Regions from separate parts of the Homo sapiens genome. Here region 1 is linked to region 2. The links come from fine-mapping of genetic effects on gene expression. A gene starts in region 2. The other region holds a variant in brackets. All regions are shown on one strand. Distances are from middle to middle.

Region 1 (16,068 bases), 53 kb after region 2:
GAACAAGGAGATGTAATAGGTAAGACCTGCTGACTTAGATTTTGGAGGTGAGAGCAAGCTACATGCACTTTACCTGCTGTAACTTTCTCACAGAAGAGTAACCACTTTCTGTCCCTTTTTTGGTTTCCCTGGAACCAAAAGCATGGTCTATAAAACACAGTAAGCATCACCCTTGGCATTATCTAAAACAGATCTCATTTTTAACTCGTGCTGGTTGAAATAACCAGCTTCATTTATTTCAGAAGCCCAAATTTAATCAGGGCCTATTGCTGCCAAGACCATGGAAGGCACCATGAAACATTATTCCAGCTTATTTCCAGGGCCTCTGGTTTTAGTCTTACTCCAATTTATTTGTCATCATGCTAAGCACTTTTGGGGAAACTTGTGGTATATGTAACTGTGCATGACATCTTGTCTTTTAGGTATTAGGGAATAGGTAGACATTTGCCTAATCATTCATTTTAATAGCTTTTTGGTAGATGAATTTAGTAGTATTACATAGAAGTTAGGAATTCTTTTTAGAAGTGATTTTCTTTTCTAAAGTTGCTAAGAATCCCTTAAGTATTGAATGTAATAGCATTTCAATTAGGGTGTAGTTGTTAACATTCATCAGGATCCTGACCATCTTGAAGTCTGGAGCTATGTATTGGTATGTCTAAAGATGCTTTTAGTATATTTTCTGAATTTGGTCCAACTGAAATATTTGCACCTTTACTTCAGTGTAACTATTTTTTATCCATTCTTACCCTCCTCTGTATCCCCAGTAGATCACAGGGTAAAATTTCAAAAACCAATTTATTCATCATCCGAAATATGTTGAGTGGCTACTATGTCCAGACACAAATCTAGGCATTGGAGATTCAGCTGAAATTAAATAACAGATAAAATACCCTATCTCAATTGATCTTATAATGGGAGGAAAGACAATTTTTTAAAAAGGCGAGAAAAGCAAGTAAATGGTGATAAGTGCTATGGAGAAAATAAGGCCAGGGTAGAGGGATGGGACTGCTAGGGGTGGAAATTGTTGCTGCTTGACACAGGGTAGTTAGGTATGATAGGTACTTACTGATAGGTAACATTTTAGTGAACCCTTGGTAGATTTAAGGGAGCAAGTAAGAGAAAGTGTTCCAGGCAGAGAGAACAGCGAGTACAAAGGCCTTGAGGCAGAAGCATACCTGACATTTTTAATGAGCAAGAAGGAGATGGAGATCATGTCCAAGTGCAGGGGATGATGTCAGGTAGGAAGATTTCAGTTTTTACAAACGAATGAGAAGCCAAGGAGGAGTTGAGCAGAAGAGTGCTATAACCCTGCTTCAGTTTCGAAAGACTCACTTGGCTGCTGGAAAAAGACCAAAAGCAAGGAGGTCACCTAAAAGGCTATTGCAGTCATCCAGATGCTCAATCTTGTTGGCTTGGATTAGGATGGAACTAGAGGGATGGTGAGAAGTTCATGGATTTCAGATATTTTTTAAGTGGACAGCCGAAAAGATTTACTGACTGGCTGGGTATGAGTGTGAAAGAAAGAGTTAATTTAAGGGTGATGCTAAGGTTTTAGCTTGGCCCACTATGATGGTGAAGTTACTGTTTTCTGAGATGGGGAAATCTGTAAGTGGAGCAGGCTTAGATGGGTATAAATCAATCATTTTTGAATATGTTAAGTTTGAGGTGCCCCTTTACACCAAGTGAAGGTTTTCTTGACATTATTAAAGTGAACATGGAGTTCAGGGGAGAAGTCTGGGCAGGGGATCTAAATTTAGGAGTGATCTGTGTACACATAGTATTTAACACCACAAGATTGGGTGAGATAATCCAGGGATTAAGTCTGGGTAGAGAATAGAAGGGGTCTGAGGACTTAGCCCTGGATCCTCTAAATGTTTAGAACAGTGTCTTCAAACTACATGTATTCATTTATGTATGGTTTATGGTTGCTTTTGCACAGTGAAGGGGTAGCTGAATACTTGTAACAGAGATCATACAACCCACAAAGCTTATTCATTTTCTGGCTCTTTGCAGAAAAAGCTTCTTAACCTCTGATTTAGAGCCCAGACAGTTGAAGAAGAACAAATAAAAAGACTAAGGAATAGCCAGTGATATGGAGGAAATCCAAATGAATGCATCGTCCTAGAAGGGAAGTGAAAAAAAGTGCTTCCAGAACAATAGATGGTCAGCTGTTTCAAGTGCTGCTGTTAGGCCAAGAAAAATGAGGATTAAGATTTGACTACTGGATTTAACAGTGTGTAGGGCATAGGTGACCTCAATACGAGCTGTGTTGGTGAAATAGTGTAGGTGAAAGCATGATAAAAGTAGGCTCAAGAGAGAATGGGAGGAGAACAGTGGTGGATACCAAGTATAGATAACTCTTTCAAGGAGTAAAGAGGGGAAGTGAAACAGAGAATGCAGTCATAGCTGCAAAAATGGATGTGGAATAAATGAGAGGTTTTTGGTTTGCTTGTTTTTAAGATGGCAGCTATGGGATTGATGAAGGTGATCTACCAGGGAAAGAAATACTGATGATAAGTAAGAGAGAGAGGAAGTTTGCTGGACTGAGGTTTTTGAGTTAAATGATAGGAAATGTGATAAAGTGCACAAATGGAAAATTTGGCTCTTGCTCGGGGTATATAGTTCTTCCTGGCAACAAGAAAGTTGTCAGAACACACAAATATTGCATGTAGATAGGGTCATGAAAACGTGTGGAAATGTCTTCTGATGGTTCCTGTTGCTTCAAAGAGCTGGAAATCAAGGTCATGGGCTGAGAATGATAATGCCAGAGGAGGCCTGAGAAGCTTGAGGAGAGAAGAGAAAGTATGACGTAGTCTTTCAGAAGTCAGAGAAATGAAGTAGACCTGCTTGGCAGTCATGACTTTAAAGTGAAACACAGTTAATCCTTTTTACATCCATAATCAGCTGCATGGGTACTGGTTGGGGTTTTGTCATATGACTAAAGTGGAGGGGCAAGGGGGCTAAGGATGAGAGTAAGCTGAGGCTAAGTGATTGTCCAAGGACTCTAAGGCTAGGGTAAGGAGGGAAGTGAGGACATGCCATATGTGAGGGACAGTGAAGAAGTGGTAGGATCAATGAAAGTTGAAAATTGTTGGAGCCAGGGAATTAGAAGGAGTGAGCTCTAGAGATAGAAGGTGGTGATCAAAGAGTGAGACCCTTGAAATTGAGATTATGGAACAACTGCAATTATTGGAATGTCAGGGTTTGGGATGTGACCATGGAAATGGGTGGGTGAGGAAAGGTGTTCGTCTTTGGAAAAAGTATGGTCAGTGAACTGTGAGGCCAGGGTGTTAGAAGGGTCAGCAGTTGGATCTTGAAGTCACCAGTATGTATAAGAGAAGTGTTGGAGAGAGCATCAGTGAGTCAGAGGCTAAAATATTCAAGGAATGAGAAGAAAAGGCCATGCGATTGATAGATGTCTGCAACAAAGAGAGTTGGCTGAGTTTGATAGCATGAGCCTTAAAGCTGAGAGCTGGTAGGGAGGAAGAGACAAGGGCAAAGGGTCTCATGCTTCAAAATGACACCCGTTCCACCTCCAGGCCCCTGGAGGGTGGGAAGAAAAACTGCCACCAATTGAGAAGGCTTCATGGGCCCTCGGTGAGGGCTAGATTTTAGCACAGAAGTATGTTGATGACCACAGAGTAAATGGCCTTCAGCACTCTGTATTTACCTTAAATAAACATTGTCACATGCTTGCTACTGAGTCGGCCATTACAGAACACAAACTAAGTAGAGCATAGGTATTATGCTCCAGTAACTTAAATTACATTCCATTTACAAAGACATAGAGGGAAAAGAAATTGAGAAACATTAATGACTAACATAATGATTAAGGGATCAAGTTTTAGCATTTGGGTTTTTCTGTTTGTTTGTTTCCCTCTGAGGACATAATATTCTTTGAAAAGTCAAGGTACCAGTTTTTATCATGATGAACAAAATCTTCAGCAGTAGAAAGAAGAGAGTTGATCTCTTGTGCATTGGTCTTGACATAGACCAAGCTGTGGAGTTTGACACTGAGACATCTCTTGTGCTGACACTGATTTGATAATGTCAGGGTGACAGTACTTTTCAGGGGTTGCCAGGTAGAGCTGGAGTTGCTCTGTAATGAAGATGATTAAGGTTCTGTTATACAAATGCTCTTATATTGTTTGGATCACCTGAAAAATAGTATAGGTGTATACTATAATTCTTAAAGCCAGCTTAAAAAAATTCAACTTTATGATATACTACTATTAACCTTTGAATAATGACCATATTTAATCTTACCTTGAATGAAATTTAGTGATTTGTTACTGGAGCATCAATCCATGTTTAACACATTTGTGTGTGTGTGTTTTATTTTACAGATAGCATAGAAGCCAATGTGGAAAATGCAGAGGTGCACGTTCAGCAAGCAAATCAGCAGCTGTCAAGGGCAGCAGATTATCAGGTAATTTAACTGTGATCAATTTTCTTATAACTTATCCTTTTCGTATGTGTGTGTGTGTGTTTGTGTTGAGGAAGCAGGGAGAGATTAGGTTTAAAATGGCTGAAGATGTTAAAATTTAAAATCCCATGGAAGAGAAGTCTGTTTAAATAATACCAGTCAGTTTAGAACTGTTTTTAGCCTGTGTTCTTCTCAGGGTTGAACCAGAATTGTTGGCCCACAGGGAGAGAAAGTTTAGTGTTTGGGCGGCAGAGACAATTCTAGGCTTTCTGATGGCCGGGGATCTCTGATGTCATTGTGACATTTCTACCCAGAAACCTTTTTGTGATAGGCCCCTCCTTCCCATTTCTTGCTGCTCCCTTTTACTTTTTCTTTCTTTTTGTCAGTGACACACTGGACTAAAGAGGCAAATTTCCTTGTCCTAGAGAGATTGCTTCAGGTCTTGTGGAAATCATATTAGCTTGGAGTGTCACTGTTCATTATATATTCTGTCCACATTCAGCAGACCCTTCACCAGGAATGAATTTATTTCTTGAGTCGGGTTAATATAGGGAGTCCACATGCATGTGTCAAATATAAATTATATGTCAAGTACTATACAAATATTAGAACTATCAACTATTAATACATCATACAATATGCAGACCTTTGATGTTCAAATTGGATAAGGCCAGGCTCTTTGGAAACCCCTAAATACCATGTAGCATTTGATTTCCTTTTTAAAACTCCATTCCTTTGTTGCTATCATTCATAATTATCATTTTCTTGACCTTATTAACTTTTTTTTTGACACAGAGTCTGGCTCCGATGCCCAGGCTGGAGTGCAGTGGTGTCATCTTGCCTCACTGCAACCTCTGCCTCCTGGCTGAAGACATTCTCTTGCCTCAGCCTCCCGAATAGTGTGTACCCCCACGCCTGGCTAATTTTTGTATTTTTTGTAGAGATAGAGTTTTGCTGTGTTGCCCAGGCTGGTCTGGAACTCCTGGGCTCAAGCGATCCACCCATCTCAGTCTCCCAAAGTGCTGAGATTACAGATGGGAGCCACCATGCCCAGCCGCTGTTAACTTCTTATAAAATATCTAAGATATTGTCACCTTCTCAGACATTTTCAATTGCTTTTTGTTTTTCTCACTAACCTTAGAAGTTGCCTTTATTTCACAGTCCATCTTTTACTGGACAAATTACTGCATATTCAGTGATAAGTAAATAATAATGAAGCTATGGAGATTGCTGAGTTATAACCAGTTGTATTCACTGACAGTCACTCCTGTTTATTATCTTTGTCCATGTCATTCAGATATGCAGCTCAGTGAAATTAATATCACTATATCACTGTGTCATGGACTTTAGGTATCCCTCACGAATAATTGAAAACACACACACACACACACACACACACACACACACACACACCCCTGCAAATGCCAGAAGTCTTCTGGAGCTGTTAGCATATAACTGCTGAAACTTAACAGGATCCATCAGTGACTAGGTTCACATGGTATTTTATTTTGCTTTTGGATTTGGGGGAAATGTGGATATTCTGCCAAGTTTTACTCTTCCTCTTCCTTGTGGAAGGCCAAGCCTACAGGAAAAAGCACATGTCCCAAGCTACACCCCAGGACTGGAAGCTGCCCCTAGGCTTAATTCCCCCAGCTCCCGAAGCGGGACGAGATGGCCATGCAGCACAAGTGCTGAGAAAAGAGGCAGCTTTCCAATAGTTCTGTTTGGAAGCCTTGATATGTTTGGGTGAACCCTAAGAATAAGGAAGGTGAGAAATTCAAGTTCACTTATCACCACATTGCCCCAGGGTCTCATTACCCCACGCTAGGGGGAGTACCCCAGGCAACAAACACACCATTGTGGGATACCCGTGATGACTCACAGGTACATTACATGTGTGTTTGTGGTAACCAACTGGAGTCTGGGAAAAATATTTATGCATGGTATTGAAATTTTAGAGAAATTGTGTTTGATACGTAAGGAGTATTCACTGGAAAAATTAGATGAATATGTGGAATATTCAAACTATTTATGGTTTTCAGTGTAATTTCAGACTCAGAAATGTATCTTTTTATAAATATTTTGGTACTTCTACTTGACACAAAGTAAATTTACAAATTTTTCTACTTTGTAAGAAAAAGGATTCCTGCATGTTGATGTGAGGTACAAACGCCATTAAAGAAATCTACAACTGAACCAGGAATGAAGAACGGAACAAAATTCTTAACCATTCGGTTTTCAATGACAGCATTATGATTTTGTTTGCTCTGTGGTTTTGTTTGTTGAGATTTTGAATGTAGTTTCCCATTAATATTAAAGAATGAGAATGATTTTGGAAACTCATTCCAAAATCATTGTATTTTGGAAACAAGAAATATGTGTGAGGGGCTGGGCGTGGTGGCTCACGCCTGTAATCCCAGCACTGTGGGAGGCCGAAGTGGGCAGATCATGAGGTGAGGAGAATGGGACCATCCTGGCCAACATGGTGAAACTCCGTCTCTACTAAAAATACAAAAAAAAAATTAGCTGGGTGTGGTGGCACGCGCCTGTAATCCCAGCTACTTGGGAGGCTGAGGCAGGAGAATCTCTTGAACCTGGTAGGTAGAGATTGCAGTGAGCCAAGATTGTGCCACTGCACTCCAGCCTGGGTGACAGAGCAAGACTCCATCTCAAAAAAAAAAGAAAAGAAATATATGTGAAGAAAAGTTGCCAATTTGTACTTACTGATATCTTCAGAGAACTCATTTTTAAGAAAAACTTTAATAAAAGGTAAAGAATGTTTAAGCTCGTAAGCTGTTCTTTATTTTTATTCATAGGTAACCTCAGTCTCTTGTTTAAGTCAGTAACTTATTTAGTGGTGTCTTCTTTCTTAAGGTCAGCCACACCCTTAGAAAAATTACCAATGAAAGTTGAAAAATTGCTCCCTTAATTGTAGCATTAGTTCAAGAATTTTTTTGAAAGAATAGTGCCATATGTATTAAAGAGATTTTTGAGGAACAAAAAAACACAGTCAAAAATTTGAGGGCAATATACTACTACTGATTTTACTCTAGAAATGAACCAAATTATTTTTAGTTGCTGTAGAGGTACTCCACTAAATCTGTAAACATGTTTTTTTGTTTTGTTTTGTTTTTTGCGTCTGCAGCGCAAATCCAGAAAAACCCTGTGCATCATCATTCTTATCCTTGTCATTGGAGTTGCGATTATCAGTCTCATCATATGGGGATTGAACCACTGAAGTTATAAAGGAGCACACTGTCGCACTACATTGTCTAAATTATGTAGGAAGATTCCTGTAATCATGTTTTTTTAATTATTATTTTAAAGCTATTGTATAAAGGATGGTTCCCATACTTTGTTATTTTTATTGGGGGGGTTGGGGTGGTTCCTTTGGATTAAATCTGATATTTTCTAATACTGAAAGATTTTCTAAATGTCACTGCTGACATAACTCCCTTGGTCTTCAATTTAATAGTTGTTAAGTTTTTGCCCACATTGCATATGCCTTTCATTTATAATTTATTTACCCTGCTTGACTTAGTTTTGGGAATTCGTAAATTTAAAGGTGTGTGTATTCTGTTTGCATCTCCCTGTCACTGTGACACACCTAGATGTGTGTTACTTCAATTAAAATTCTCAAATTTAATTTTGATTTGCTTCAGCAGGGAAAATATTCTCAATAATGTAAAATAATTAAGGTCTATACATGGGTTGTATTTTTCTGGTTCACAACAGCACAAAGTGTCTTTCATTTTTTTGTTGGTTTTCTTTTAAGATCTTTTTTACCCTGAAGTCGGTGAATACTTTTCTAGTTTATTTGATACTCTTTCTGTGTATATATTAAGCTTTTGCTGTAGATTGCCTAGTAAAATTACTAAGGATAGGTTGTTTTTACATATGGTCTATTTAAGTCTGATGTTTACGGGGGAAAGTGTAGTTACTAAAAATGTTTAACATAATTTGGAAGAAGAGTATGAACAACCAATACCAATACCTATTGCGTTTGGATTCTTAAGACCCCAGTTTGTTATTCCACTAAACTAGTTATCTTAACCATATCATCTGGTTTTGTGGGCCATTATTTACCTTCCCTTATGTCTTATAGAATAATGGTTAATATTTTTAGGTCAAAATTACTTTTGGAAAGTAACTTTCCCACAATTAACTGTTTTTGAGCACCTGACAAAATTTAGTGTTTACCTTGCGTGCCATTTTGTGTCATCCTTCATTAAAAAAGCAATTGGAGGTTTGCCAGTTATCTCACTTCCCTTTTTAAATCAATGTTGTTTTAATGCACTAATCTGAATTCTGTAAAGAGGATTATCTTAGTTTATACTTTGTATTTTATAATGTTCTTGTATAGCAG[C/T]TCGGTACTGAAGGCGGTGTTTAACTTGGCAAGCTCTGAGACTTCAAATGGGAACAAATAGTAAGTAGCTAAGTAAACCACATCTTTGCAACCAAAATAAAGATGAGTTAAAAGGTATCTGGTTAGGCCTATTTCATGAGGACTATGCTCTGGTGGGACCACAGGTCACCTGATACTTAGTGCTGTGCTGCCTGAAACCTCAGCATGGAGACATCACCACATGCACTGTGGCCATTCAGCATCTTTCTGGAGCACCAGTTCACTCCAGGTTTTTATTTTAGGGTGTCATCGATTTTACCTACTTTGTCAGACTGGTAGAAGTTGCTTTGCATATCAGAAAAACTCCATTTTTTTCCACAAAAGGGATTACAGAAAACTCTTTTGTGAGTGAGTGATTGGAACTTAGAGACTCCTGTTGCCAGAATCAGACTGCCCTAGAACAGAATGGACAATGCAGGGAGGAGAATTCACACAAACAGCACCTGTTCTGAGGCCTGTGCCAGCCCACCAGGCCTGCTCAAATGTGGTCTTTACTTCAAGTGCACAGAGGCACATGAGGTTTCTGGTGATAAACCAGCGTCTTACCGCTGTTTTAAAGTCCCATCCCCATGGCTTTCACAATCAGTTCCGTTTTTTTTGCTGTACTTGATAAAATGTTTATTCTCATACAGGTCAAGTACATTTACTTCTATTCACAGTGAGTACCCAATAACAACAAAAGCGCTTACAAATTTGGGGGGCGTGATTTTAGTACCTTTATTTGAAGTGTAATCATTTTAAATTATTATTATTTTAACTGGGGCAGTTATCAGTGGTTTAAACAGGAACTTTAGTGGCTTCAATTTGTTTAAGAAACATATTAAGTTTGAGGGAAAAATTTCCCATGAAATATTTGGAACGTAAGAGTAGTATTGATTAGAGAAAATTAAATAAGAAACATAGTATGGTAGCCAAATTTTTTAAAAAATCTTGAACTTTTCTGTAGGTCAGTTTTAGAACTGCTGTGAAAAGTGAAGGTTGCCCTGTGGAGATTAAAATTAGAGTTGTTTTCATAACTGACAGCATGGTGAATCCATTTGAGTCAAAGTGAAGAATTTCCTCATCAAGTGACTATACATTTGTTTTTGTGTGCTCAAAAGAAATACTCAAACACAGACTGATATTAACCAGCCAGGTAAATTGAACGACAATGTGGCATTAGGTATTTGGCTGTTTATTGGTCGTTAAATACTATGGTTTTGCAATATGATTGATGGTAAAAGAGTGATGTCATATTGATACTAGAGTAGCTTGTTTTTTTAGTAGGTGTGGGACCATCTCTTTTACAAGTGCAACTCAGTCTAGGACAGCCATGGATGCAGTGTCTGGAGTTGGACCCTCTGAGCCCGCTGGCTGCCCCAGTAGCATCTGCATTGGTGACCAAGGACACTGCACTTTGAAGAGGTCGCCACTGGGTTATTTAGTGTCTTCACTGCTTTTGTTAAAAATTGTAAAATTTTGTACACAAAAAGTTGTGTTTTTGAATATCAATTGTTTAGACACACCTACAATGATAAATAAGTGCCTTTAAAGGCCCCTCTTTCCATGAAATACATCTGTGGTTTAGCAAGGAAAGTACAAAATAGTTTATGTAGTTGGTATAATTTTTATTTGTGTCTTCATGTAGAAAAAATGAATGTCATAATAAAATATAAAACTTACGTAAAGAAAATAAAGTCATTGTCCACCTTAATAGCTAAGGTCCACAAGGGTAACTTATGCAGCATTTATTTTTTTTGAAAGTCAAAATTGAATTTATTTCTTTCACATGGCTGGTTTGCTGCAATATGAAGTTTCAGAATGGGCTGAAGTAAGTTGATTGAGGGATTTGAGTTGAATGACATTTTCAAGTTCATTTAAATATGATAAAAATTCATTGGTGGTAAATAACATCTGTCTTTCCTGGAAAAAAAAAAGTTGTGTATTTTCATGATTCAGTTAAAACAAAAAATGAGCCTGTGAATCCCAGGCCTTTTTAGTCCTCCATAACATTTGAACAGTTTGACTTGTCAGCAAAGAAATACACTTATCAAATTTTAAACCAATGGGAGCCTGAAAGTGTTACAGTGTACTGCTTCTTTGACAAAATTCTGTTTAACAACTACCCTAACATAATTTATAAATCAATTAAGATAAAACCATTTTTTTCTGAGTATTTAGGAATTTGTGTCCTCAAAATACTGTGACATGAAAGATAGGAAAGAAATTACCTGGTTGCCAGACATGCACGATTATCTTTCCTCATTTCAGCTGGATTTTCCAAAGTCAGTAGATTGGATAAAGCAGCATCTCATTCACTGAGGTCACAAGATAGGTAGGAAACTTCTTTAATGTGAATTTTGCATATTTTAACAATTCAGTTAGAAAAACAGAAACCACTTGATGGATTATAAGTGTAAAGTGTTTTAACATAGGGAATTAGACATCAAAAGGGTGGGTGAGGAAGGTGTCTGCGGCCCCAAAGTGGGTGGATCTCAGGAGCTGGCCCAGGCACTGCTGTGACTCTTGAGAACATCCAGAAGGCTGTGCTGTTGGCGTGCAGCACTGACAGTGTGTCTCAGGGAGCTGTCCCCAGCTGTCAGCTGTTAATAGCTCCAAAGCCAGTGCCTTGCAAGAGATTTTGAAACTGCTGTGAAACTCATGTCCTCTGCCCGCCTACACTTCTGTCTGCAGTGGCCTCTGAGGAAAGATGGTCTCTCCTTTTCTCATGGTCAACTCTCAACTTAGAACCAGAGACAGAAGGAGTTTGTGGGAAGTGTGGTTTCTGGTCTACCTGCACTGCAGAGGACATTCTAGAAAGAGAAGTGAGTTGACAGTCTAGCATAATTGTGAAACAAACACTGAGATGTACAGTTCAAACCACGTGAAGTGGAAGCCTCAGAATTTTCCTCACTTTCATTAAAGATTCTTTGATGGAAAAATTTAGAAGCATTGGCTCTAGATGGTAAGCAAGTCATTTTTTTCCAACCAAAATAAAAAATACATATACTAAGCTTCTGGGGCCCCAGGACTTAACACAGTTTCCTTCCTTCCTTCCCTTCTTCCTTCCCTCCCGTAGTAGTTGCTTAATAAATACTTAATTTGGCACTTATTTGGGGCCGGCTTTTTGCCAGGCTACTACATGCCTGGGCATAGTGTTCTAAGAGTGAACCAAAAGAATAAGCTTCCTGCCCTCAGGGAGTTTATGTTTTGTTATTTGGCATATAAAAAGAACTTGGTGTGTTAAAAGAAGGGAAATAGCTGTGTGAAAGGAATGAGGCAAGGAAGAAAGGGAATGTCTAAATATAAATCTCCGTTTGGACCAGCCTCCTGTTTATCCAGTTTTCCTTACTAAGTAACTGAATTTCATTTTCTTTTCTTAATTGACAGACTACCAGAAAATTGCTAGTTTTCTAAAGAGAAACTACTGATTTGAGTGATGATCTGTGTGTAATGGCTCCAAAAAGGAGCCGTTCTCTTGGTGGCAGCAGTTGGATTCAGAGCTTGGGCATCCTGATCATCAGGACAGACATTTACAGGATATGTATAGAATTACTGCCCCAAATAGAGGGCAAAGCACTAGACAGAAGGGTGAGATCCAAGGGGAATTTGGAATCTATATTTCATCAGAATGCACTCAAAGCAAAAACAGTAAGTATGCTCCATATAAAGAAATGTTTCTTAAAATGTTTTTAATTTAACCCTACCCATCCCTTGGCAAATCTTTTTCTTTTAAATCAAATAGGAATAAAGAAGAAAATCTTCCTATTGGCCCATTTTCTCATTATTCAAATACCATATCAATACACCAATTTTAATTCTTTGTTTTTGTAATCATTTGGTTAACATGAATATTATGTAATATTTTTCTCCAAATAATCCTAATTTTAAATGCAGAAATAGAGCTAAATAACACACTAAATAGGTTTTTGTAGACACTGTAGCTTCTGGCAAGTTTTTAAGAGGTTGGTCACTTAATTGCTTAGAGTGGGATTCCCGTAGGTTTTGTGTAGTGATGGCATTTATGCTTAAAATGTAAGTGGTGGAAGGCAAAACCAGATTTCCTGTCCAGTCGTTACACGCACAACACCTCTACTTGTTGACGAGGGAGTTTTCTAGAACTGAATTGAATCTTTAAATAAACTTGAAAGGGCATTAATTCCCACTTTGGCCAACCCAAAGTACAAATTTTTAAGTGTTTACTGTAAGTATCGTTAGGCAGTAGTTACTAACTCCAACACCTAATAGCATTGGTAGAAAGCTTATAAATGCAGTTATTTAGCCTCGACTAAGATTTTTCTGATACCTAGTTTCACTTTTTAATGCCCTCTGAAAGTTTTTTGATCAGTTGTTTAATGGGAGATCTGAAATGTTAAACTCAGACCAGAAAGAAGAGAACCTGTTTTCTAGAAATTAGGTTTTTAATCCAAGTAAGATGCAAGCTTTTGCTTTTTTAATAACTTGTATAGCTAAAAACTTGACGGTGAAAAGCTCTCAGATCAAAGCTGATCCTTCTGTCAGTAATGATTCTAAAAATAAGCAAGATTTTAATGGGGAATATATTTTATTTCATTCTTATCTCAAACCTAGGTACTGTGGTCGTTTTGAGTTCATTTCGAGGCATTTTCAATGTGCCTCAGGCCACATCCAACCTCTTCCCAGGGCCAGATTTAATGTTCAGCCTCATAAAGGTTATCATAGTTTTAACATTTAAGTACTATTTTGCAGTGGGTATATACCAAAATTTGCTAATAGTAAGATAACCTTAGTTATATATCATTCACGTTAGTTCTATCTTGGAGGCAATAAACATTTCTTGTTCAAGAAATTCATGTTCTATCTTGGAGGCAATAAACAAACATTTTTTGTTCAAAATTAGGGCTACCCTATTGTCCTTATGTCTTTTCCTGATCTGTGGTCAAACATTTTTCTTAGTCATTTAGAAATTTTCTATGTTGTTTTAAATTTTCTTTAAATCTAGAATGGAGTATGTGACCAATACTTTCCTTTGGAATGGTATGGACATTTGAAATAGAGCCCATTCTTTATAAAGTATAAAATATGTTTAATGCTAGTATTTTTAACTAAACTTTTGAGAAACTAGATTCACATGCTGTTGTAAGAAATAATACAGAGACCTCTTTCGTGTACCTTTCACTTTGTTTCCCACACAGTGAACATCTTTCAAAACTGTCATACAATATCATACCCAGGATACTGACACTGGTATAGCTAAGATAGAGAACGTTTCCACACAGAACTTTTTCTAGCACAGGGATCCCTCATCTTGCTTTTGATGACCATACCCACTTCACTCCCATCCCTACTCCCTTCTTAACCCTTGGCAACCATAATCTGTTCTCCATTTTTATAGTTTTTTTTTTTTTCATTTCAATAAAGCTGTATAACTGGAATCATAATAATATGTAACCTTTTGGGATTGGCTTTTTTTCATTTAGCATGATTTTCTGGAGGTTAATCCAGCTTATTATGTGTATCAAGTCTATTGACAGGTACTTTTTAGTGTGAATAGAATCCCATAGTATAGATGTACCACAGTTTGTTTAACTGTTCACCTGCTGAGAGACATTGGGCCAGTTTTTGGCTACTATAAATAAAGTTGCTATAAACATTTGTGTACAAGTTTTTGTGTGAACATAATCTAGTTTTCTGGGTCAAATGCCCAGCAGTTATATAGTAGTTGGGTCATATAGTAGTTGAATGTTTAGTTTTTAAGAAATTGCCAAACTTATACCAAGTAGCTGTACTATTTTATATACCCACCAGTGGTGTATGAGTGATCTAGTTGCTTCATGTCCTTTTCAGCATTTGGTGGTGTCTCTTTTTTATTTTAGTCATTCTGATAAGTGTATAGTGACAGCTCATTGCAGTTTTGATTTACCATTTTCCCTTCGCTAATGGCAATGATGTTGAGCATCTTTGTTTCATATGCTTATTTGCCACCTGTATCTCTTCTTTAGTGACATGTTTCTTCATGTCTTTTCTAATTGGATTTTTTTTCTGTTGAGTTTTGAGGGCTTTTAAATAATGTGTGTGTGTGCCTCTGTGTGTGTGTGTGTGTATTTTTTTCTAGATACTAGTCCTTTGTTGGATGTGTGATTTGCAAATATTTCCTCCCAGTCAGTAGCATGTCTTTTCATTTCTCTTTTCTGGGCCTTTCACAGAGCAGAAGTGTTTAATTTTGATGAAGTCCACTCTATCCATTTTTCTTTTTATGGATCATGCTTCTGGTATCAAGAACTTTGCCTCTCTCCTTAGATCCCCCAAATTTTCTCTTTTATGTTGTTTTCTAAAAGTATTATAGTTTACGTTTTACTTTTAAGTCTATATTCCATTTTCAGTTAATTTTGTATAAAATGTGAGACTTAGGTCTGGGTTCATTTTTTTTGTTGTTGCCTATGGATATTCAATTACTCCAACATGATATTTGTCGAAAAGGCTCTTTTTTGTCCATTGAATTGTTTTTGCACCTCTGTCAAAAATCAGTTGAGCAAAAATGAGTTAATGAGAAATCAGTTGGGCACATTCGTGTGGGTCTATATCTGGGTTTTCTATTCTTTTCCATTAGACTATGTGTCTATACCTCCACCAACACCAAAATCTTGATTACTGTAGTAAGTCTTGAAATCAAATAGGCTGGTTTATTCCACTTTCTTTTTCAAAATTGTTTTAGCCACTTAGTTCCTTTGTCTTCCCGTATAAACTTTGGAATAATCTTGTCTGTATCTATTCAAATATCTTACTGGGATTTTGACAGGAACTATGTTATACCTATACATCAATTTGGGGAGATTTGACATCTTTACCATGTTAAGCCTTCCCGATCATGATCACAGGATCACTTCACTTCATTTCAGTTAAATTTTGTTTTCCTTCATCAGTATTGTGTGGTTTTCAGCATACAAGGTCTGTACATGTTTTGTTAGATTTATACCTAAGCAATTTAATTTTTGAGAGAGATTGTAAATGGCATTGTATTTTGAATTTCCTGTTCACATGTCTATTCTAAGTACATAGAAATAAAGTGAATTTTTCTATTTTGTATACTGAGACCTTATTGAGCCCACTTACTCATTTTAGGGGATTTTGATTGATTCCTTGGGATTTTTTTTTTATATAGATAGTCATGTCATCTGCAAATAATGAATAGTTTTATCTCTTCATTTCTGACCTATATTCCTTTTTTTTTTCCTTTCAGTCCCTTAATGCAGTGGGTAGAAATTCCAGCAGAAATAAA
Region 2 (16,068 bases):
TTAAAATTCTCAGCAAACTAGAAGTAGGAGAAAACATCCTTAACCTAGGAAAGGAAATCTTAAAAAACCTACAGCAAACTTCATGCTGTTCATCCTGCTTAGTGGTGAGAAACTGAATGCTTTCCTCCTAAGCAGAAACCCAGCACAAATGTCCTCTCTCGTTAGTACCATTCAGTGTCATAATGGAAGTTCTAATTAGTTTGACAGAGCAAGAAAAACAAATAAAATGCATACAGAATAAGAAAAAAATAAAACTATATTCACAGATTATATTTTTTGTGGGGAAAATAGTGATTTTATTTTAAATGCCAATCTGCCACGTAACTTCTGACTAACCCCAAGTCCAGGAATGCCGCCAAAATGTCTTGCTGATGTATTACTTTTTATTTAGAAATACCTATTTATTGTAAGTTTTCCTCCAAAACCTCCCTTGATGCTGTTACAGAAATCTTAGGCCCTGATGCTCATAGCCACCTGCACATTCCTTCCAGAGTACATATACTTTTCCCTCAAGATACATGCCCTGGGTCTCAGGGTTTGCAGTGCAGAGAACTATGTGTCTTGTGGCCACCCAAGACCATGCTGCTGTCTGTAAGTTCCCTCTAATAAGTCACCCAATACCAATGAACTAGATTTGTCTGCCTCCTTCTTTGGTTTCTTGGCTTCTTTGGCATTTGGGGGTCACTTTTTATATATACCCTTTCACAGAACAACCGTCTATGTAGAAAGTTCCAAATAATACACAAGCTCATAAAACTAATACATTCCTTTAGTAAGGTCACAGAATACATGGATGATACACAAAAACCAATAATATTTCCATATTTCAGCAATGAAGAAGTAAAAATTAAAATTTAAAAATACATTATAATAGTACCCAAACAAATGAATAAATTATGTATGACTCACAAAATATGTGCAGAATCTGTATATTGTAAGTTACAAAACACTGATGAAAAACAATATAAGAAAATCCAAATAGATGTGGAGATATACTATGTTTATGAATTGAAAATCTCAATATTAAGATGTCAGTTCTTCCCAATGTGTTCTGTAAAGTCAAAACAATCCCAATCAAATTCCAGCATGATTTTGTAGATATTGACTAGCTGCTTCTAAAATTTCTACAGAAAAGCCAAGAAACTGAAATAATCAAACAATTCCGGAAAACAAAAAAGTCAGAGGACTCATATTATCCAATTTCAAAACTTACTCTAGAGCTTCAGTAATCAAGACAGCATGATGTCGGAGAAAATATATGCATAGATTAATAGAAGAGAATATGAAAAATAGAGAGAGGTTCACAGAAACATAGTCAACTGAGTTTTGGCAAAAATGCAAAGGCAATTCAATGGAGAAAAGATAGACTTTTCAACAAAGGTACTGAAATAATTGGACATTCATATGCAAAAAAACAAATGAAATGAACCTTAACAGATACCTGATACATTCTACAAAAATTAACTCAAAATGAATTGTAAACCTGTATGTGAAATGTAAAACCATAAACCTTTGAGAATAAAATATAGGAAAAATTTGTATAACTTTGGGTTTGGTGATGAGCTTTTAAATTAATCACTAAAGGCATAATTTATAAAACAAAAATATGGCAACCTAAAATTTATCAAAATTAAAGACTTATTTCTCCATGAAAGACACCATTAAGAGAATGAGCTGGGTGTGGTGGCATGTGCATATAGTTCTAGCTACTTGGGAGGCTGAGAAGAAAGGATTGCTTGAGCCCAGAAGTTTAAAAAGTTGTATGTCCAACAATCAGGCCTATGTATAGCCCCTGCATTCTAGTCTGGGCAACATAGCCAGATCCCAGATCTTTTCTGAAAGAAAATTTAAAAAATTTTAAAAGAAGAGAATGAGAAGATAAGCTACAGAGCTACAGACTAGGAGAAAATACATGTAAATGATATATTTGATAAAGTACCAGAATACAAAAATAATTCTTAAAACTCAACAGTGGGAAGACAACCCAATAAAAAGCAGGCAAAAGATTTGAATTAACATTTCACTAAAGAAGACAGATGGATTTCAAATAAGCATACATAAAATCACAATGACATGCCACTACACACCCATGAGAATGAAAAAAAAATGTTTTTCAATTCAACAATATCAAAAAGTGACAAAGAAGTAGAGTAACAGAAATCCTCAATCATTGCTGATGGGAATGCAAAATGATACAGCCACCTTGGAAAACAATTTGGAAGTATTTTGTAAAATTAAATGTAGAGCCAGAATTGCCATCTTCCAGTAATTTGCCAAAATGATTAACACAAAGGGAAAGAGGAGAGGCACCTGATACATGTTCTCTAGGCCTTTTAGAAAACATGGAGTTGTTCCTTTGGTCACATACATGCGAATCTACAAGAAAGGTTATACCGTAGTCATCAAGAGGTTGGGTGCTGTTCAAAAATGAATGCCCCACAACTATCACCATGGAAAAACTGGAAGAGTCTACAATGTAACCCAGCATACTGTTGGCACTGTTGTAAACAAACAAGTTAACGGCATGATTCTTGCCAAGATAATTGATGTGCATATTGAGCATATTAAGTACTCTAAGTGCCGAGACAGCTTCCTCAAACACGTGAAGGAAAACGATCAGAAAAGGATCTCAAGGAGAAAGTCACCTGAGTTCAATTAAAGCAGCAGCCTGCTCCATCCAGAGAAGCACACTGTGTGAGAACCAATAAGAAGGAGGCTGCTAGAACTTATTTCCTATGAATTCATGCCATAATAGGTGTAAAAAAAATACCTGTAAATTGTAAAAACATTTCTCTTCATTGAGTAGACGTGTGGTGGCCCCTCCCCCGGAGCAATATTTAAAGCAAAAATAAATGAATAAATATACACTTATACAGTCCAACAGACCTACTTCTAGATATTCACTCAAATGATTGAAAACTTCTATTTTTACCAAAATCTGTATTTAAGTATTTATAGAAGTTTTATTCATAATTGCCAAAAATTGGAAACAACCAACAGGTGAATGGATAAATAAGCTGTGTTATATCCAAACAATGGAATATTATTCAGCCACAAAAAAAAACAAACTATAGATTTATACAACAATGTGGATGTATCTTAAATGCATTCTGCTAAGTGAAAGAAATCAGACCCAAAAGGTTATATATTGTATGATTGAATTTATAGGACATTCTGGAAAAGGCAAAACTCTGGTGATAGAAAACATAAGTGGTTGCCAAGGGTGGGAGGAGGGGGATGGGTTGAATAAGGGTTGTTGTGAAAGGGAATTTTCAGTATGGTAGAACTGTTCTCTATGGTATTGGAGTTATGGATACATTACTCTATATATCTGTCAAAAATCCACAGAACTATATACCACAAACAATGAGCTTTATACAAATTTAAAAAATCAATCAGTATATTTGTGGATCATAGGATAAAATGCAGATCTATGACAACTGAATTTAACTGCAAAGTCAACATAACCTAATTTCACTGAAGGGGATGGGTAAAGAGCCGACCTTGGTGATTTTTAGAAAACATTGTTTTGACTCAATATTATAAGGCTAAAGACAAAAAGAATTGTACATAAACACTGCACTAAAGATTTTTTTCTCACACAGAGTAGGAGTTAGCAATTCTGAAGCTATTAGGTTGGTGCAAAGGTAATTGCGGTTTAATGGCAAAAACCACAATTACCTTTGCACCAACCTAATTTTTTACATTATAGAAATAAGAACATAAATGGTAGATAATGGAAGCTAGGTTTCTCACTTCTAGCGAAAGAAGCTAAAAATTAGGACAAGGGAAGGCTAGAATGACCCCTATAATGTTGGATTAGAATTGGGAATGCCTAGATGAACTCGTGTTTATATATATAGATAAAATCTGATATAGCTATGGATATGTAAAACAACTGGAAAACAACTTGGCAGTTTCTTGTAAAATTAAATTTATAGACATACTTTATACAAGGCTTATACTGCATATAATGTATACTGTATACATTTCTCTATGGATCAATTCCCTGATTCCTTACCCCAACTCACACAAACCCCACCTCTGCCCAGTCCAAGCACTTTTATTTTTACCAAATATATTTTGGGGCATGCAGCCAACATGGGGATGGCATGAAGCCTGGAGTAAATATCCTACATACATGAATTAGTATATATAAATTTATTTCCTAGCTCTGTCCATTGAGGGGAGCGTAGAAGCACTGACACCCTAGTAACAATGAGAAGGTTAGTGCCTTGATCTTGATTTCTTTTCTTTTCTTCTTTTTGGTAGGGTGGGGGACAGGGTCTCACTCTGTTGTCCACACTGCAGTGCAGTGGCATGATCTTGGCTCACTGCAGCCTTGACCTCTTGGGCTCAGGCAATCCTCCCACCTCAGCCTCCTGAGTAGCTGGGACTATAGCTACTGTGCACATCACCACACCCAGCTAATTTTTGTAGAGATGGGTGTAATAGCCAAGGTTCTCTAGTGGAACAGAATTAATGGAATACATATATATATATATATATATATATATATATATATATATATATATATATATGAGTTTATTAAGTATGAACTCACATGATCACAAGGTCCCATAGGCTGTCTGCAGGCTAAGGAGCAAGGAGAGCCAGTCCGAGTTCCAAAACTGAAGAACTTGGATGCTCAGGGGCAGGAAGCGTTCAGCACGGGAGAAAGATATAGGGTGGGAGGCTAGGCTAGTCTAGCCTTTTCACATTTTTCTGCCTGCTTTATATTTGCTGGCAGCTGATTAGATGGTGCCCACCAGATTAAGGGTGGGCCTGTGTTCTCCAGCCCACTGACTCAAATGTTAATCTCTGTTGGCGACATCTTCACAGACACACCCAAGATCAATACTTTGCATCCTTCAATCCAATCAAGTTGACACTCAGTATTAACCATCACAACAGGGTTTTGCCCCATTGCCTAGGCTGGCCTCGAACTTCTGGGCTCAAATGATCTGCCTGCCTTCGCCTTCCAAAGTGCTGGGTTTACAGGTGTGAGCCATGCTACTGTGCCTGGTGGTCCTGGCCTTTGATTTCTAAATAGCTTTTTCCAATAAAAAGAAGAAGTGCTTAATAGTAAAATGACTGATTCTAGAGCTGGAGCAGGGAGAATACAAGCTAATTTAGTTGGTACTGCTATACCAATGCTGATTTCTTAGTTTTGACAAGTGGACCATGGTTATGTAAGATGTTAACATTAAGGAAACATTAGGGGAACCTGGGTGAGGTATATACAGGAGTGCTGTACTATCTTTGCAGCTCTTCTATAAATCTAAAATTATTCCAAAATAAAGAATCGTTTAAAACATGGGGGAGAAGAAAAAATGTTTTCTAGCTAATGGGAACTACGTGAGCGAAGCACAGAAATAAGAAAACCCCTGGTTTGTGACTGGGGAGCTAGCTGCTGGGATGGAGGGGAGAGCAGACAGAGAAAGAGGAGTTATTTAAGCCAACATATTCCAAGCATAAATTTTGATGCTTGGAAAGGCAGGATCAGACCATGTGGTCCTTATATGTATAGGGACCATATGATGCATCATCTGAACTGAAGCACGTTTGAGAATGAAAGGGCATGCTCAGAAGACAGGCGGCCAGGACAACAAGCATAAACTAGGGCTGTCCTAGCAAACTAAATATATGGTCACCCTGTGTATATGCAGGGGGCTTGGACTTGATTTTGAGAGCAGTGTTTTCCATTATGCATATTTAAAAGTTTTACAGGCAAGTTCCACCATCAAATACACTCATAAAATACTGGGTAAAAGAAATTTTTACTTGTTTCTTTCCTGAACCACTTCTCAGCGTCTTTAATTTACAAATATGCTCTGTGAATCTTCAAGAATGCAATATAATATGTTTCCCAAACATTTCTTTGTAGACCAATTCCCTGATTCCTTATTTCAACCCACACAATTCCCCAGCTCTCCCCAATCTAATTATTTTGGTTTTTTTTCTTAAGAAATACAGTTCAGGGAATGCTGCAATCATGGAAATGGCATGAAGCCTGGAGCAAAGTTCTCAGATTAGAGCTTCAAATATTCAGTGGTGGCTTTGACAATAATAAAGTTGAGAAGACCTGGAGATAGAAGATCCAACAAGGAGGCTATTGCAGTGGATCAGGATGTCAACCGTGAGGGACAGAGAGAAGAGGGCACATATGAACAACACTTAGGAGGTAAAATTAGAAACGAAAATACCAGTCATCAGGAGGTAAAATTAGAAACAAATATACCGGTCATCATGCTATAATGGCCCATGTAAGATTTCCACGGGATATCTGTTTATTACCTCCATGTTCAAAAGCTAGGGCAAAATCAATTCTGTGCTTGATATATGACTAGGCACTTGTGTGATCTTAAACAGAAAACAAGTAGACTGTAGAGAGACATGGAAGGTGCTTAACAATAAGGCACAACTGAACTAACTCTTGTTTATTAAGTATTAATTTAAGCTTCCTTTTAATCTAGCATAGATTTTTTAAACCAGTTGTGGTTTTCCCACTGTATTATAAATAAAAACAAACCTTCATAAGTCAACTTGTCCTTCTCACTTACCAATAAGTCCCTGTTTGCTCTATTTACCTTTATGCGTCTTTTACTTCTTTGGCTTTCCCAGAAGATCACATAGTGGTCATGTAAAAAATATTTTTAGTTCAGTAACTATTAAATGAACCAGCAATTATCTCCTTCTATTCCCTGGAATTGCTATCCCAGACACTGGAGATACAGCAGTGGACAGTTCTCCATCCTACATGAGAGATGTTACATAGGAGGTATTTATGGTATTTATATTAATAAGGACACCACAAGTGTGCAGATAACATTCCCCACTCAACAACTTCTGGTTTCCTTCAAAATCTCTCCAAGAAGGCCCAAATCTCGCAAATTACTATTTCTGAAAATCCAAATTACAAGCTTTCAGTCATAGGTAACTTCTGCACATGGAAATGATTTATTTTGGGAGATGTGACATTATCACTCATCAAATTAGGAGACTTTTAAAGCCCTACCACTTTCAAGACACCTGGCTGAATTTAACTTGGTAGCAGCCAGATTCACAGATGGAATACTGTGTCAGGAACTCTTAGTAATTCATTTATCTTAATACTTCTAAATTTTGCAAGTTTGTCTAGACTATAATTCTTTTTTTTCCCATTTGAATACCAAAGGATGAAATCTTATTCTAAGTTTTCAAAAGACCTGGAAGGAATCCACTCATAACATATTTTAAAACAAGGAATTGGAATGAGCCCAAGATGAGGGCTCAGACAGCTAAGTTTTGGGCCCAGCATAGTCAGTAACTATCAGGGTAACTTGAAGAGGCCACTTAATCTCAGGTTCTTCTGTAGTGCATTGTACCTTCCCTCCCCGGAGCCCAGAGTTCTATCAAAGGTAATATGAATGGGTATTTGGAAAGTGCACTAAACCTCACATGGATGTAAGATCCTTTCATGTGTTCCTTCAATGATTGAAATGTTTCTTCCTACGTTCACCAGCCACTTCCTAATTCTCAAGTACAATGCACTACTTTCAGTTCTTTATTTACTTGAACTTTGTGTAACAGGTGACATCATGGACAATTCCCTCCTTTTTTCCTTCATTCTCTAGTTTACCTTTTCCTGGTTTATTTCCTATCTTGTGGGTTACTCGTTTTCAGGGTTATTCTTTCTCTGTCCATCTCTCTTAAGCAGACAACATTCCACACTTAGTGTTGGTGAGTTCCAATCAGAATTCTATCCTGGGTTTTGTTTTTTTCCACCTAAGTGCGTCTGGACTTTTGATATCACCTATCCGGGTAATCATTTTAGAAAATAGTGTTGCCTTAATATAGGCAAAGGCTAAGCCAATCTATCTTCTAATTAATTTGGAGAGGGCTTTCTTTCATTTGTAGCAATTGATGCTTTTCATCTAACAATTACAATATATTTGCATATTTATCATTGGAACTGTCTCTGCTTGTTTTAAACCCTGTGAAAACTACGCCCTGCTTTTCAGGAATGCTTAGAATGACTTGTATGTACTAGGAAAACTTGTTTACAAGTGAGCACCCAGAGATGACTCTTCACTTATTCCTTCATTGTTCCTGCTAGGATTGTGTACTCGCCTTTGCATTTTTCGATAGAGCTGTCAACGCGATCTACTGCAGTTAAAGGTTAGCAAACAAGACAGGCAAGAGCTAATGGGGCGGGGTGAAGACCCGCGTGCAAGAAGGCTGGCTTCACCAGATAAAGAAGACAACTGTCCTCCATTCTGTCCTTTTTTGCACGCAGGCTAAGAGGCGTTCACCATCTCTACGTCAGGCTTCAAAGAACAGCTCCCTTGCAATTTTGCTGATACCCCCATTCCTTAGCTTGGAACCGGAGGGGCGGTGAGGGCCGCTGTCACTCAGCCCCGCGGGCCAATAGAAAAGGGGTGAACCCCGCCTTCTTCCTGAGTTGTGCTGCGGGCATGCGCACTGGGCGTCCCCACGCCACCGCCCATCAGCTGAGAATTGCAGCTGAGGGCTCCGGGGTAGGTGGGTGACGGCGGTCGGAGGTGTAGGAGGGAGCCGTGGAGGTCCAGGTAAGAGGACCCTGGGGAGGGGGCTCCCTGGCCGGGCGACAGGGAGGCGCGGTGCCCCTGCGGCTGCTGCGCCTTCTTGTTTGTGCGCGTGGTCAGGTGGCCGCCGCCCTGCGCTCTGCAGCAGGCACTCGGGAGGCTAGGAAGGGCGGGACTGCCCCAGCTCCCGGAGCGCCTGCGGCTCCCCACGCCCCCCGGCCGGGTGCAAGGGCGCGGCGCGTTCCGCATTCCGGGTGCGCGCGGCTGTGGTCAGGTGGGCCTACCCAGCCACGCACCCGCCGCGGTCCCCTGGGCAGAGCTCCGGAGGCGCACGGCTGGCGGAGCGCACCCCGGGGAGGGCGCCAGAGCCGGCTGGGGCCCAGCTCAGGAATCCAGACACGACCAAATGACCTCTTCCTCTTTTCAACTCACGGATTGAAAAACACACTAAACTTCCCGAATATAGAGGAACTGAAAAATGTATGGCTGTAGCAGGCGAACCGTGTATGTTTATTTATTCAGAGGATCGTAGTATTGTTTTTTTAATTTGGCTTGATGACTTTAACATACTTTGACATTCTTTGAGTATACACCTTTAATTAATTTACATAAAAACCTTTAAACGTACATAAAATATTTCTAGTATTTCCTCCACCTTGTTTTCTAGTTACTTTCTTTAAATTCAGACAAAGAAAAAAAGTTGCATTTCTGATCAAATGCTGTGTGTTTTTTCCCACAAATTTCTTACATTTGTTTGGCTCTTATCTGTATACGTTAATTTTTGTTTACCTCAGATCGTTGTATTCTGACTATAATTATATATAATATATAAAACTTGCCCAGAATCTGGAAGAAAAGAAAGTAATTATGAAATGCTGTGCTATTTAATAATGTTGGAAGTGGACATTTCTTCTGCAGGTTCTCTGAGCACACCTGGGCAGAGGCTGATAACGGTGTTAAACTGTGTTTTGTGTTGTGGACAGGCCTTATAGGCTACTTTGAGAAGTTGGCCTCAGACTCGTGACTAGTTAAGAATTATGCTCTTAACTTCACAGTTTCTGTAGAGGTTAATATGATACCATATTAACTGATTAACATCATAATTTTTCCTCAGATATGTTACTTATGTTGCTCTTGATAACAAAATCAATCCTTATTTTGGTTATGACCCCAAACTTTAAGTGCTGATGATTGAAAAGTAAATTATAGAAAATATTCACAGTAAGTCTGAGTGAAGTTTGCTGTGATTCCATTTAATTTGCAAGTTTCATGTGTGAAAGTATGAAAAAAACAATCCTCGGTATTGTGAACTAAAACCAAGTAGTACAAAAGGTCAGTGATGAAAGAGCTAAGGCCAAAGAATACAGTTAATGTAGTTTTTGCAGAGGATACTTATGTAGACAGAGCACCCTCACATTCCTTGAGCATTTACTATGCACCAGGCACTGTAGATTACACAGGATGACAAGGTCATCTCTCTCCTGTTTATATTCCAGAAGTAGCTCCTGTTTGTATTCCAGAGGTGTAGGGATAAATAATAAACAGTGATTAATTCGACTTTTGAGTATTGTGAAGCAGTAAGTTAGATTGACAAAGAGTGACCAGTGGTGAGTTCTCACTTTCATATCAGAGTGGTCACAAAGGTTTCTCTAGCATGTGATGAGGCCTTGCTGGGGAGAAGGAGCCAGTCACGTGGAGATCATGGGAAGAGCCTTCTAGAAATAGGAAATGGCACCCAGCAAAGGCCCAAGGCAGCAAGAAGCCTGGGACCTTCGGTATCTGAAAGAAGGCACTGGAATTTTATGTTTTGGAAATGGTAATATTTACCCTCACGCTGGGTGTGTGTTCTTAGGAGGTGGGTACATTCATTCATTCTACAAATGTTTGTTAAGCACTTGTGATGTAGCCAGGCAGTGAGAATAGTGCAGTCCACAAAACAGACAAAAAAATGCTCACCCCCCACCCCTCAGAACTTACTTGGGGTAGAGGGTATAGAGAAGTCCAGTTGTTTATGCTGATGCTAATGATTAAGAAAGTGAAATTGACTACTTCTTTGCCCAGGGTAGATTTATAGAGCATGAGATATATGCTAAATGGAAATCTTAAGGATTCTACAGTATATCGGATTTTAACTGGGAGTAGTGTTTGACACTTCAAGATTAAATTTTAACATTCCTTTTGTTCATTCCTTTGTGTTCTTTAGAAGCCGTCTTGAGAAGACTCTCATCTGAGTGTTGCACTTTGATTCTCCCTTCCTGTTTTTCTCTTTATAGTGTTTGTATATCTTCATAGAAAGATGATTATTGCAATGTGGAGATTAGCACTGTGCAATAGATCTTTCTGTGATAATGGAAGTGGTCTATGAATGAGCTGTCCAAGCTGCTGGCCACTAGCCACACAGAATTTTTGAACATTTGAAAGGTGTCTAGTGTGACTGAGGAACTGATTTTTTTCATTTAACTTAATTTTAATTAATTTTAATTTTTTAAAAACGAGAGCTACAATGTAATTTAAGTGATACACAATATAAAATGGTGTAAATTGTCACATGAAAAAATGAAATGTAGAGTAAAAGTGTAGTTTCTTACTGCAATCAGTTATCTTGTTAGCAGCTTAAAATAACCTGTAATAAGATTTTTTTGCTTTTATTATTTTAATCGACAGATAATGATTTACATATTTGTGGATACATGTGATACATCAGTAGATGTGTACAATGTGTAATGATCAAATCAGGGTAATTAGCATATCCATTACCTCAAACATTTAACATTTCTTTGTGTTAAGAGCATTCACAATTCATTCTTTCTTCTAAGTATTTGAAAATATGCAATAAATTGTAATTAATTGTAGTCACCTTTTAGGGGTATAGAACACTAGACTTCATTCCTCCTACCTAGCTGTATTTTGGTGTTAGTTAACCAACCTTTGGCTATCCCCTTCCCGCCATCCTTCTCTGCTTCTAGTAACCACTATAATTTTAACAGCCCATTTAGTTAGTGGCTAGTCTGTTAGTACAGGTCTAGGTAATGAATTATATAATTATTATTCTGAGCAATTAAATAGGAATTCTGAGTGGGCTTTCAAAAGTATTCAACAAGAGTACTTTAGTGCGTAGCAGCTCTGGGCTAGGTAATGGAGACTGATGTGGAAAGCAGACATCTGAATAACTCAGCATCCATTTAGCCTATATGCAGAGATCATAAGCTTTTAATCAATTTGTAGTTACCTATCCTGTCTGTCTATGCTTGTATATATATTTTTTAAAGACAACCATTTGGTTCCTTTCCTTTGTGTGTCTCATTATCAAAAGAGCCAACTGTTGTTGCCTTTTAGATACCACTTATTAGCAGAATAATAGAGAAAAGGAGTAAGCTATTCCTCTGTGTTACCTTGATCAACTCATGTAGTTATCCCAAACATATTCCTTCATCTTAGGAGTGGGAATAGCAAAACTTCATATGGGGCATGCAGAAAAGTGGTAAATTTGGTTTTTCTTTTGTCTTTTTTTATTTTATGTTATGTTATGTTATGTTATGTTATGTTATGTTATGTTATGTTATGTTATGTTATGTTATTTTGAGACGAGTCTCGCTCTGTCGCCGGGCTGGAGTGCAGTGGCGTGATCTTGGCTCACTGCAACCTCCGCCTCCTGGGTTCAAGCGATTGTCCTGCCTCAGCCTCCTGAGTAGCTGGCACTACAGGCGCATGCCACCACACCCAGTTAATTTTTTTAGTAGAGATGAGATTTCACCATGTTGGCCAGGATGGTCTCAATCTCTTGACCTTGTCATCTGCCTGTCTTGGCCTTCCAAAGTTCCGGGATTACAGGCGTGAGCCACCGCGCCCAGCCCAAATTTGGTTTTTCTAACTGAGTTCACCTGCCCTCAATTTTGTTATACAAGGAAGCAGTATGGCTTAGTGTTTAAAAAATGTCGGCTCTGTGGTTATTTTCAAATATTTGCTCCTTTGCTTATAATGATAATGAGGCATAATGATATGCCTCAGTTTCTTCATGTAAAAAAATCACATTAGCAATTATACCCACATGATAGGCTTATAAGAATTAACTGAGAAAATAAATTTAAAAGTCATAAGCACAATGCTTAGGAAATGTAAGTCCTGGATGAGTGTTGGCCATTGTTAACTTTGTTTTATTTTACACATCTTTCTTCTCTATCTTTTGCAAATTGCTTTTCATTCTTCACACATGATTCCTGGCTAGATACAGTGGCTCAAACCTGTAATCCCAGCACTTTGGGAGGCTGAGACTGGAGGATCGCATGAGCCCAGGAGTTCAAGACCAGTCTGGGCAACAAAGTGAGACCCCCATCTCTATAAAAAAATCAAAAAATTAGTGGGATGTGGTGGCAGGTGCCTGTGGACCCAGCTACTCGGGATGCTGAGATGGGAGGATTGCCTGAGCCTGGAAGTCAGGGCTGCAGTGAGTCGTAATCACACCACTGCACTCCAGCCTGGGTGCTCCTGTCTCAAACAACAACAACGCCAAACAAAGAAAAAGTAAAACAAAACTCATAATTCCAGTCAATCTAAGTAGCACCTCTTTGGGTGAATGAAGCCACTTGCCAATTGTCTCACCAGCAGGAACTTTCTCACATTTAGTAGCTTGAGGAAAGGGATGAAGAAAATTGATTGTGTTTGTGACTAAGTGATTGATTTTCCAGAGAGGAAAAAAGGTGGCCTTGAAAGAAAACAGTGAGAAGACTTGGGCTACACTGGTGTGAGTTTTAAGGGTAAGGAAAATGCTGTAGAATACTGTCCTTGACTTGATGGAACTCTTTATGGGAGAGAGAGTAGGCCTCAGGTGTGCTTGCATGGTTTTGAGACAGGTGATGAGTTTCTCTTGGTCTTGTGCTGATGCTGGTCCTGCAGCTGCAAGAACAGATCATAACTTTCCTCTGTGTAGGGTGGAAAAGCATTTGTTCTCTGGATGTGCATTATCTCATTTTGATTCTGGCAGTGGGCCCAAATGCTAAGTGTCTTGCCCAAAGTAGAAATTTCCAGTTGCTACTTCCATGGTGTGCCGCACAGGCAATGGCTGAGTTCTTGTAGCTTCACAGACATGTAGACACGAGAGAAAGCCAAGGGTACGAGCTGGAGACATGGATGTGCGACTCATTCAGGTATAGATTAAAATGGAACCATGTATATGGAGGAGCATCCCCAGAGATTACATGAATAACAAACTGAACATTTTTTCATTCAATGTGTTTGTTTTGGCTTGTAAGCCAGTTTTTCCAGAGATCTACTTGATAGAGGGAAAGGAGAAAGGAAGATGTCATTGAACCAAGAGAAAATTGTCTTTCTCCATACCTTGGAATATTATTTGGCAATAATGAAGGAATATTATTTGGCAATAATGAAGGAATGAAGGACTGATATATGATACAGCACAGATGGACTTTGGAAGCATACTAAGAGAAAGAAGCTAGTCTCGAAGAACACATTGTATGATTCCATTCCTATGAAATGTCCAGAATAGCAAAGCTATAAAGATACAAAGTAGATTAGTAGTCACCTTTGGCCAGTGAGGTTGGGGAGAAATGGAGAGCGATTGCTAATGATTACAAACTTTCCTTTTAGCGTAATAGAAATGTTCTAAAAGTGATGATTGTACAATGTTGTAAATATATTAAAAACCATTGGCTTGTGTACTTCAAGTAGGTGTATTGTATTGCCATATCTCAATAAATTATATCTCAATAAAGCCATTTTATTTATATAAATTTAAGGGGTGCACATGCAGTTTTGTTACATGGTTATATTGCATAGCGTGAAGTCTGGGCTTTTAGTGTAATCATCACCTGAATAATGTACATTGTACGCATTAAGTAATTTCTCATCCCTCACCCTCCCATCCTTTTGAGTCTCCAATGTCTTCTTATTCCACTCTCTGTCCATGTGTACACATTATTTAGGTTCCACTTACAAGTGAGAACATGCAGCATTTGACTTTTTTCTGAGTCATTTCACTTAAGATAATGGCCTCCAGTTCATCTGTGTTGCTGTGAAAGACATAACTTCAGTCTTTTTTAAGGTTGAATAGTATTCCATTGCATTTATATACACTACATTTTCTTTATCCATTCAGGAATGTTAATAGACACTTGATGGGCACTTAGGTTAATTCCAAATCTTTGTTCTTGTGAATATTGCTACAATAGACATATGAGTGCAGATTATCTTTTTGGTATAATGGTTTTTTTTTTCTTTTGGGTAGATACCCAGTAACGAGGTTACTGGATCAAATATTAATTCTATTTTTAGTTCTTTGATGACTTGCCATGCTGTTTTCTGTAGAGGTTGTACTACTTTACAGTCTCACCAACAGTGTGTGTGTTCCTGTTTCTCTGCATTCTTGCCAACATCTGTACTTGTTTGACTTTTTTTCTTTTTTTTCCGTTCAAGATGTGTTTGTGGATGAATTTTTAATAGCCATTCTGACTGTTGTGAGATGATGTCTCATTGTGGTATTAATTTGCATTTATCTGGTGCTTACTGATGTTAAACATTTTTCATGTGCTTCTTGGCCATTTGTATGTCTTCTTTTGAAAAATGTCTATTCATGTGCTTTGCCCCCTTTTTAATGGGGTTATTTGTGGGGTTTTTTGTTGAGTTGTTTGAGTTTCTTGTAAATTCTGGATATTAATCTCGTTGGATGTGTAGTTTGCAGATATTTTTCTCCCATTCTGCAGGTTGTCTGTTCATTCTGTTTATTATTTCTTTTGCTGTGCAAAAGCTTTTTAGTTTAATTAAATCTCATTTTGTCTGTTTTTTGTCTTGTTGCCTGTGCTTTTGAGGTCTTAGTCATAAATTCTTTTCCTAAACCAATGTCCAGAAGAGTTTTCCCTATATTTTCTTTTAGTATTTTAATCGTTTTAGGTATTACTTTTAAGTCTTTAATCCATCTTGAGTCGATTTTTTTTTTTATATGTTGACAGATAAGGGTCCAGTTTCACTCTTCCGCATGGGGCGATCCAATTTTCCCAGCACCATGTATTGAAAAGGGCGTCCTTTCCTCAGTGTATGTTTTTGTCAACTTTGTCAAAAAGATCAATTGACTGTAGATATGTGACTTTACTTCTGACTTCTCTATTCCATTCCATTGTTCTATGTGTCTGTTTTTATATGAATATCATGCTGTTTTAGTTACTATACCCTTTTAGTATAATTTGAGGTCAGGCAATGAGATGCCTCCAGCTTTGTTCTTTTTCTTAAAATTGCTTTGGCTATTCAAAACCTGTGTTTTTTTTTTTTTTTTTTTTTTTTTAAGTGACTTGGAGATGCATTTAAAATTGCATGGTTTCAAGGATGTTCCGGATGGTGTTGGTGTCATTGAATCCCCATGTCTACTCTTGTTCTGTCTGGGCCCAAGTCCAAGGCTACCTGGAAGGAAGTTTATTCCTGTCTCCCCACTGTAGTGGTCCAGCTGTCTGACTTTAGGTTTGAATTTACCCTTTAATGAAATTGCTTTTGGATCCATCTCTAGGATTTGGTGAGA

The links. PIP is the estimated chance that this variant, and not a neighbour inherited with it, causes the effect.
Region 1: its variant is fine-mapped to the expression of STX7 in monocytes (TOPMed, PIP above 0.99). The same link has a PIP of 0.9 or more in T cells and blood mononuclear cells.

The regions. Positions count from the first base shown.
Region 1 is chr6:132,452,354-132,468,421 of GRCh38, reverse strand. STX7 (syntaxin 7) reads left to right here. Exons shown (of 10, transcript NM_003569.3): 8 at 1-19; 9 at 4,347-4,429; 10 at 7,572-16,068. The coding sequence ends at 7,664. Among named protein-coding and RNA genes, the nearest start is that of STX7, 53 kb to the left of the region's middle. RefSeq lists a silencer at 2,598-2,892. The variant C/T (reference allele first, on the strand shown) is at 8,793.
Region 2 is chr6:132,505,509-132,521,576 of GRCh38, reverse strand. It overlaps STX7 (syntaxin 7), which reads left to right and starts at 8,461. Exons shown (of 10, transcript NM_003569.3): 1 at 8,461-8,570. It also overlaps the pseudogene RPL21P66. RefSeq lists enhancers at 8,155-8,354, 8,712-9,213 and a silencer at 8,505-8,994.